Linked DNA regions of Homo sapiens: region 1 is linked to region 2. The links come from fine-mapping of genetic effects on gene expression. A gene starts in region 2. The other region holds a variant in brackets. All regions are shown on one strand. Distances are between the middles of the regions. Region 1 overlaps ADAM15 (ADAM metallopeptidase domain 15). Region 2 holds the start of DCST2 (DC-STAMP domain containing 2).

Region 1 (4,000 bases), 25 kb after region 2:
CAGGACCACTCCACCAGCATCCTGGGAGTCGCCTCCTCCATAGCCCATGAGTTGGGCCACAGCCTGGGCCTGGACCATGATTTGCCTGGGAATAGCTGCCCCTGTCCAGGTCCAGCCCCAGCCAAGACCTGCATCATGGAGGCCTCCACAGAGTAAGTAGCTGCAGGATGGAGAGAGGGTGTGGGGCAGGGGGCAGGGAGAGGCCCCCAGCCCCAACCTTCCTTGCCACCCTCCCCAGCTTCCTACCAGGCCTGAACTTCAGCAACTGCAGCCGACGGGCCCTGGAGAAAGCCCTCCTGGATGGAATGGGCAGCTGCCTCTTCGAACGGCTGCCTAGCCTACCCCCTATGGCTGCTTTCTGCGGAAATATGTTTGTGGAGCCGGGCGAGCAGTGTGACTGTGGCTTCCTGGATGTGAGCCCCTTTCCCAAAGCCTCGCCCCACTCACTTCTGTACCCTCACCCTGGCTCATTAGCCCTATCCCAGCCTCCTGAGCTCTTGGGTTCTGAAGGGACTTTCCACCCCTCTCCTACTTGCCCTGTCTGTGGGGACAGCACATGGGTTGTTGGGCTCTAGCCCTCGCTTGCTGTGTAGCTTCTGGTCTTGGCCTGTGGGAGGAGGAGAGATTGGAGGGAGGCTCACAGGCCCCACCTGCTCTGATGCCCGGCCCCCGTGCTCCTGCCCACAGGACTGCGTCGATCCCTGCTGTGATTCTTTGACCTGCCAGCTGAGGCCAGGTGCACAGTGTGCATCTGACGGACCCTGTTGTCAAAATTGCCAGGTGGGTAGAGACTAGACTGGCCACCCGGAGCTCACCTGCCGGGGCCAAGGTGGAAAGGGTCATTCTGACCCCCGGCTGGATTTGCTCAGTGCCCACACTGATGCTCATCCACCCTCCACAGCTGCGCCCGTCTGGCTGGCAGTGTCGTCCTACCAGAGGGGATTGTGACTTGCCTGAATTCTGCCCAGGAGACAGCTCCCAGTGTCCCCCTGATGTCAGCCTAGGGGATGGCGAGCCCTGCGCTGGCGGGCAAGCTGTGTGCATGCACGGGCGTTGTGCCTCCTATGCCCAGCAGTGCCAGTCACTTTGGGGACCTGGAGCCCAGCCCGCTGCGCCACTTTGCCTCCAGACAGCTAATACTCGGGGAAATGCTTTTGGGAGCTGTGGGCGCAACCCCAGTGGCAGTTATGTGTCCTGCACCCCTAGGTAAGTGAGGAAACCTGGCTCCTCCTTTGGGTTTCTGAGAGCCTTGGCCCTGCTCCTACTAACTCTGTGTGCCCTTCCCCCTCCCCACAGAGATGCCATTTGTGGGCAGCTCCAGTGCCAGACAGGTAGGACCCAGCCTCTGCTGGGCTCCATCCGGGATCTACTCTGGGAGACAATAGATGTGAATGGGACTGAGCTGAACTGCAGCTGGGTGCACCTGGACCTGGGCAGTGATGTGGCCCAGCCCCTCCTGACTCTGCCTGGCACAGCCTGTGGCCCTGGCCTGGTGAGCAGCCTGGGTGGGCAAGACCAGGTGTGAGAAGGGACATTTGGACCACAATGAACAGAGCCCAGACTTCACCATTCACCAATGTCAAAGGCAGGGACTCCAAGGGAAGTCAGTTTCTTACTTCAGATGGAGCAAAGTCCTATCAACTCACTATGCCTTGGTTTCCCCATCTGTAAACGCAGGGTATGGCCTCAACCTTATTGGCCTCCCAGTCCCATTAAAGCTTTGTGGGAATCTGATCCAGGCTCTTCTCTCCCTGGGTCAGGTGTGTATAGACCATCGATGCCAGCGTGTGGATCTCCTGGGGGCACAGGAATGTCGAAGCAAATGCCATGGACATGGGGTGAGCTGGGATGGGGGAAGTGGAAGGGGAGCAGAGAGCCTCTAGAGAGGAAAAGGATACTGGGCTTTGGAAATAGACATATCTGGGTTTTAATCCTTGCTCTACTACTTCC[C/T]AGTTGTGTGACCTCGGGCAGGTTACTAACTTTGCTGAGCTCAGTTTCCCCACCTATCAAATGGCTATAATAATAGTATCCCCATCCAGGGTACATGAGATGAGTATGAAAGCATCTAGCACAGGCTGGGCACAATGGCTCATGCCTATAATCACAGTTTTTTTGTTTGTTTGTTTGTTTTGTTTTGAGACAGAGTCTCGCTCTGTTGCCTAGGCTGGAGTGCGCTGGCGTGATCTCGGCTCACTGCAACCTCTGCCTCCCAGGCTCAAACATTACTCATGTCTCAGCCTCCCTACTCGCTGGGATTACAGTCACCCGCCACCATGCCCAGCTAATTTTTGTATTTTCAGTAGAGATGGGTTTCACCATGTTGGCCAGGCTAGTCTTGAACTTCTGACCTCAAGTGATCCTCCCGCCTCAGCCTCCCAAAGTGCTGGGATTATAGGGGTGAGCCACTGCACCCAGCCAAATCACAGTACTTTGGGAGGCCAAGGCAGGAGGATTACTTGAGGCCAGGAGTTCAAAACCAGCCTGGTCAACATAGTGAGACCCCCATCTCTTTCAAGGAAAAATTTAAAAATTATTCAGGCCTGCTGGTGCACACCTATGCTCCCAGCTACTTGGGAGGCTGAGGCAGGAGGACTGCTTGAGCCCAGGAGTTTGGGGCTGCAGTGAGCCATAATTGCACCACTGCACTCCAGCCTGGGCAACAGAGTGAGACTCCATCTTACTTGCTGTCTAAAATAAAATAAAATAAAACAAAACAAAACAAACACAAAGAAAGAAAGCATGTACCACAGTGCCCAGCACACAGAAGGAGCTCAGTAAGTGTTAGTTTGATCTAATTTGCTCTGGTATGGATAAAGACCCTCCCTCCGGGCTGTCTCTACACACATACCCAGCACAACCCCCAGTTGTAGAAATCTGAGATCTTGAAAAGCTAGAGACAAGGAAATAGTTCCAGAGTGCAGAGCTCCTCATTGCTCGCCTTGTACCTCCTAGGTCTGTGACAGCAACAGGCACTGCTACTGTGAGGAGGGCTGGGCACCCCCTGACTGCACCACTCAGCTCAAAGGTAGCATGGGGGTGGGGGACAGGGGCAGCTGGGAGGGCAAAGCGTCTCATGCTTTATCTTGCCCCCTCGGCCCTCTCTTTCTGACCCCCCTTTGCTGCTGGTTCCCTGAGTCTGTGCCCCTTGAACCCTTCACTCTCCCTGATCACTTGACTTCACTCCCTGCCCCCTGCGCCTTCATGGATCTAGAGTTCTTAGCCCCGTCCTCCCTTAAACCTGACTTCCGCCCACAGCAACCAGCTCCCTGACCACAGGGCTGCTCCTCAGCCTCCTGGTCTTATTGGTCCTGGTGATGCTTGGTGCCAGCTACTGGTACCGTGCCCGCCTGCACCAGCGACTCTGCCAGCTCAAGGGACCCACCTGCCAGTACAGGTATGAGCATCACCTCCCTGCTACCACTTCCTTCAACTGGGGACAGTGCTGAAGGCTGCCTCACCTCTGCAGCCCCTGCCACCTGGTTCTGAGCCCCAGGCCCCTTGGACCTTAAAGTTGCTGACTGCCATACCCCACACCTCCCTTCCCTATATGTGCCCACAGCTTTTTACCTCACAGCTGTGCCCCTGTGGGGTGGCTGGATTGCTAGGGCCATTTCTCCCCAGGAGCCCCTGTGCTGGATAAGTAGGGTCTTCCCTCAAGCTAATAAATACTGCCCCCCACCCCGGCCCTACCACAATTTTACCTAAACCACACATAAGTGCCTGCAAAGGGTTAACCCCACTCAGGGATGGCATATGGTAGAAAACAGGGTCTGAGGCTGGGCCCTCTCCCTTCTTGCCTTTCCTCATGCATAGGGCAGCCCAATCTGGTCCCTCTGAACGGCCAGGACCTCCGCAGAGGGCCCTGCTGGCACGAGGCACTAAGGTGAGTCCTGGATGCCAGAGGAAGGGGACTCCACCTTGGCCGGGCATCCAGCTTGGGCCCTGGGGGGTGCGCATTAAAGGCTCCAGACTCAGAGAAAGGCTAGCACTGCCCAAGAGT
Region 2 (4,510 bases):
TTGCCCAGTTCCGAGTTGCACACATCGCCGATGTGCAGGAGCCACTGCCACACATTCCGGAGAGCCCTGGCTGGGGACAGCTGCAGGGTTGGCACCCAGGGCTGGAATCCTACAGCCTCTTCTCAGGGTTTTGGGGAACAATACCACAGTATCCAGGGCTGGAGAGGCCTGTGGTCAGGGACCTGGCTGTGCTGTGTCCAGTGAACACTAGCCAGCGCCCAGAAGGGGCCCAAAAAACCCTGGACAGGGTACAGGTGAGGAGACTGAATTTTTTTGTTTCTGTTTGTTTGTTTTGTTTTGTTTTGTTTTGAGATGGAGTTTCGCTCTTGTTGCCCAGGCTAGAGTGCAGTGGAGTGATCTCGGCTCATTGCAACCTCCGCCTCCTGGGTTCAAGAGATTCTCCTGCCTCAGCCTCCTGAGTAGCTGGGACTACAGCTGCGTGCCACCACGCCCGGCTAACTTTTTGTATTTTTAGTAGAGACGGGGTTTCACGATGTCAGCCAGGATGGTCTTGATCTCCTGACCTCCTGATCCACCGCCTCAGCCTCCCAAAGTGCTGGGATTACAGGTGTGAGCCACCGCACCTGGCCCCCCCGCTTTTTTTTTTCTTTAGAGATGGAGTCTCACACTGTCACCCAGGCTGGATTGGAGTACAGTGGCACGATCATAGCTCACTGCAGCCTCAAACCCCTGGGTTCAAGAGATCCTTCCACCATAGCCTCCCCAGTAGCTGGGACTACAGACATGTGTCATTACATCTGGCTAGTTTTATTTATTTTCTATTTTTTTATTTTTTATAGAGACAGGGTCTCGCCATGTTGCCAAGGCTGGTCTCAAACTCCTGGGCTCAAGTGATTCTCCCACCTCGGCCTCGCAAAGTGCTGGGATTACAGGCATGAGCCACCGCACCCGGCCAGGACTGGGTGCATTTTGAGTCCCCGGGATAGACATGCTAATGTGCTTACCTATGTGTTTCACACCATCCATGATTGACCGAAAGAACTTGCGGACCCGGTCAGCCACCTCTTTGGTCTTCCGGGCAATAGCTTTAATCTTGTTCAGGGCACCTGATGGGTGAGGGACAGAGGCACTTTGGAGTCTTCTCCTCTAGGGGCTGGTTCTCACCATTGCCCCTTAAGCAGGGAGTAGAGAGGAGGCCACCATTTCCAGAGGCGGGAAGCCTGGATTCTGGGGCCTGGGAGATCGTTAATCTGGGAGTGGAGGAGGCCAGAGAGCAAGGAGAGAGGGTTTAGCTGTGCCCAGAGTCCCTTCCAGGCCCAGATGCTCCGCGATTAGCACCAGCAGAGAAGGAGGCCAAAGGACTGTAGAACATGCAGGATGAGGGGGGCGAGGGGGGCCCGTGGGAGACAGTGGTAGAGGTGGGGGACTTACTGACAAGAGGTTGCTTGGCCCTCTGTAGCACTTCGGCGGTCTGGTTCAGGGCCAGCTCTGCCCCACAGGCTACAGCCTCGCTGGCCCGGGTGAAGTTGCGTAGAGTGTTGGCACAAGGCCCTTGAAGCACCAACCCAAAAGCAGCCACCAACAGTAGTGTCCGGCCCTGCCCTGGGGGCGACAGCTTTGTTAGAACCAAGACCCCAGCCCCAAACATGGCAGCAAGTCCCTTACATAAGCCTTCAGAATATTTCCCTTAACCCCTGCCTCTCCTCCAGCATCTCTTCTGCCCCAGCACCAGCCCCAGGACCTGCCCCCTAGCCCTGGGTGCCAAGCTCACTGGAGAAGGCCTGAGGCAGCAGCAGGAGGACAGTGGCTCGGACCTGGCGAGAGAATCCCATGCCCAGGCTAAGGAAGGCAGCCAAAGTGAGGGTGCCCACCAGGCAACCCCAGGGGCTGTGGCCTTCCACCAGTAGCTCCAGAAGCCCGTAGGCCGTGGCTAAAGACAAGCCCAGGGTAAAACCTCCCACGCTGCGAACCACAGCTCTCGCCATGCTAGGCTCCTCTCCCCCCAAGGGGTGCACAACATCCTTCATGACTTTGGGCATGGCTGCTGAGACCAAATGTCTGCCTGTCTCCAGGAGATGCCCGCTGACTTCTGTGCTCCTGGAATTTCTCACCGTATTCTAAGGTTCCAAAGGGCTTTCACTGCATATGTCTTGGAATCCTTGACCCAGTTCCGAGGACTGGAGAGGGGATAGGTAGGTCTCTAATCTCCTTCCCCACTTCTCGGAGCAGAAGGATTAAAAGGCCCAGAGCTCAGGCCTAGGCTTCCCATGAAGCGGAAGAGACAGGCAGCACCTCTCTTCTCTCACCAGAACCTTGTGTCCAAGGAGGTCCTTCAGGAGACCTGGGATGAGTGGTGCTTCCCCAAAACAGACTCATGGACATTAAACATCATCAGAATGGCACAAGAGGGCAAAGAAGAAAACAGCCTCATACCAGTGAGTCACTCAGCAGAGACCCAGTATCCCTTGACCTCCACTCTCATCCCATCTCTCCTCCTGGAACTCCTGCACACTATCCCCCAACTCGGTGTCCGCGCCTCCACCACCTCTCTGGTCTAGTGCCTCCCGCCTCCCAGCCCAGCCCTTGCCTTTGCTGTCCCTTACACCCATACCACTTCCTCAGGCTCCCTCATCCTCCTCCAGGGTCCCCTAAGTTCCTACTGTTTCACATGCCAGGTTTCCCCAGCCTCTATCCACCTGCAAGCCCTGAATCCTAATGAGCCCCATCCCAGGCAGAAGAGTGGGCTGTTGAGCTACCCTGTCCCCCTCTTAGCGGTGCAGAGGCTCCTGACCTGGGGGCTGCCAGTCTCCTGTAGCTGGTTCCTGTGGCGCCAGCCGGGCGAGTTTCCTGTCACTGCTCTCCTGCTGGGGGCAGGCGCTGGGGGGCTCCTGGCCATAGGTGAGTGTGGAAGCAGAAAGTTCGGGGTGGGCAGAGGCTGGACCAGGGCTAGGACCCATCTTTTGGCCTTTGGCTTGACCTTGTGCCCTTAGGTCTCTTTCAGCTCCTGGTGAACCCCATGAACATCTACGAAGAACAGAAGATTATGTTCTTGTACAGCTTGGTGGGTTAGTGCTGGGCAAAAGCCAGGAACACTCAAGCGGCCTGTGGAACACAGCGCCGTCCTGCATGCCCAGGAAGGAGTCGGGACTTGTTTCTTCTGTACCCATACATCCCCTGTGGCTTCCGCCTCCTCCTGGGCTTTACGGGGAGGTCCAGAGGGAAGAGGCTGCCAATTTAAGAAGGAAGACACCGTCCTTGCCCTGAGGGAGTCTCTCCATTCCGAGGGACTCCCCATCACCCACATGATATAGTCCAACCCCATAACCCTTCATAACTCTCATCTCTCCTGACCTGTCTGACCTCGTTTTCTGATCCTCCTAAGAAATTAAATTCATTCATTCATTCATTCATTCACTCAGCACTTACTGAGAATCTGCTGAGGATTTAGCAGTAAACAAGGATGACAAGCATCCAGCCGTTTTGCTTTGGTTTTGTTTGTATGTTTTTGTTTTCGTTTTGAGACGGAGTCTCGCTCTGTTGCCCAGGCTGGAGTGCAGTGGCTCAATCTCAGCTCACTGCAACCTCCACCTCCCAGGTTCAAGCCATTCTCCTGCTCAGCCTCCCAAGTAGCTGGGATTACAGGCACCCATCACCATGCCCAGCTAATTTTTGTATTTTTAGTAGAGACGGGGTTTCTGTATGTTGGCCAGGCAGGTCTCGAACTTCTGACCTCAAAAGATCTACCTGCCTCGGCCTCCCAAAGTTCTGGGATTACAGGTGTAAGCCACCGTGCCCAGCCCAGTTTGGATAATTTAACAGCTCAGTAGCTTCGAGAAGGACTCAGGTTCCTTCTGTCTTTTCTCTGCCATCTTCAGTCTATTGACCACTTCTCTTCAGGTCACAAGATAGCTGCAGCAACTCTGGCATCACATCTTCATACAATAATATCAAAGATCAGAAAAAAATAAAAAAAGAGGAAGAAACAGGCCAGGCACAATGGCTCACGCCTGTAATCCCAGCACTTTGGGAGGCTGAGGCGGGTGGATCACCTGAGGTCAGGAGTTTGAGACCAGCCTGGCCAACATGGTGAAACCCTGTCTCCACTAAAAATACAAAAATTAGCCGGATGTGGTGGTGCACACCTGTAGTCCCAGCTTCTTGGGAGGCTGAGGCAGGAGGCTTGCTTGAACCCAGGAGGCAGAGATTGCAGTGAGTGGAGATCGTGCCACTGCACTCCAGCCTGGGTGACAAGAGCGAAAGGCCATCTCAAAAAAAAGAAAAGAATAGAAGTTCAATCCCAGGCCCAACTTCACTGTCTTGGGCTGTGCGATTTGAGGCCAGGGAAAAAGGAAAATGACCTAGGTGACAGAGTGAAACTCTGTCTCAAAAAAAAAAAAAAAAAAAAAAAAGGAAGAAACATCCTTTCCTCATGTCTCTTTTTAGGAACAAGGGAAACTTGCCTATAATCCCCACAGTAGACTTCCTCACATCTCTTTGGTCAGAACTGCGTGCAACACATGCCCTTTCCTGAACCTGTCCCAGGCAAGGG

Evidence for each region.
Region 1: its variant is fine-mapped to the expression of DCST2 in tibial nerve (GTEx, PIP 0.90).

The regions. Positions count from the first base shown.
Region 1 is chr1:155,056,950-155,060,949 of GRCh38, forward strand. ADAM15 (ADAM metallopeptidase domain 15) reads left to right here. Exons shown (of 23, transcript NM_207197.3): 11 at 4-152; 12 at 239-413; 13 at 688-780; 14 at 902-1,206; 15 at 1,297-1,492; 16 at 1,761-1,838; 17 at 2,953-3,025; 18 at 3,256-3,394; 19 at 3,814-3,883. The region is part of intron 1 of DCST1-AS1 (DCST1 antisense RNA 1); the gene reads right to left. It overlaps ADAM15-EFNA4 (ADAM15-EFNA4 readthrough), which reads left to right. Exons shown (of 26, transcript NR_176418.1): 11 at 4-152; 12 at 239-413; 13 at 688-780; 14 at 902-1,206; 15 at 1,297-1,492; 16 at 1,761-1,838; 17 at 2,953-3,025; 18 at 3,256-3,394; 19 at 3,814-3,883. Among named protein-coding and RNA genes, the nearest start is that of EFNA4, 4.8 kb to the right of the region's middle. RefSeq lists an enhancer at 1-598. The variant C/T (reference allele first, on the strand shown) is at 1,951.
Region 2 is chr1:155,031,702-155,036,211 of GRCh38, forward strand. DCST2 (DC-STAMP domain containing 2) reads right to left here and starts at 2,080. Exons shown (of 15, transcript NM_144622.3): 1 at 1,733-2,080; 2 at 1,393-1,563; 3 at 966-1,067; 4 at 1-70. The coding sequence starts at 2,000. DCST1 (DC-STAMP domain containing 1) reads left to right here and starts at 2,123. Exons shown (of 17, transcript NM_152494.4): 1 at 2,123-2,153; 2 at 2,271-2,396; 3 at 2,734-2,859; 4 at 2,952-3,026. The coding sequence starts at 2,336.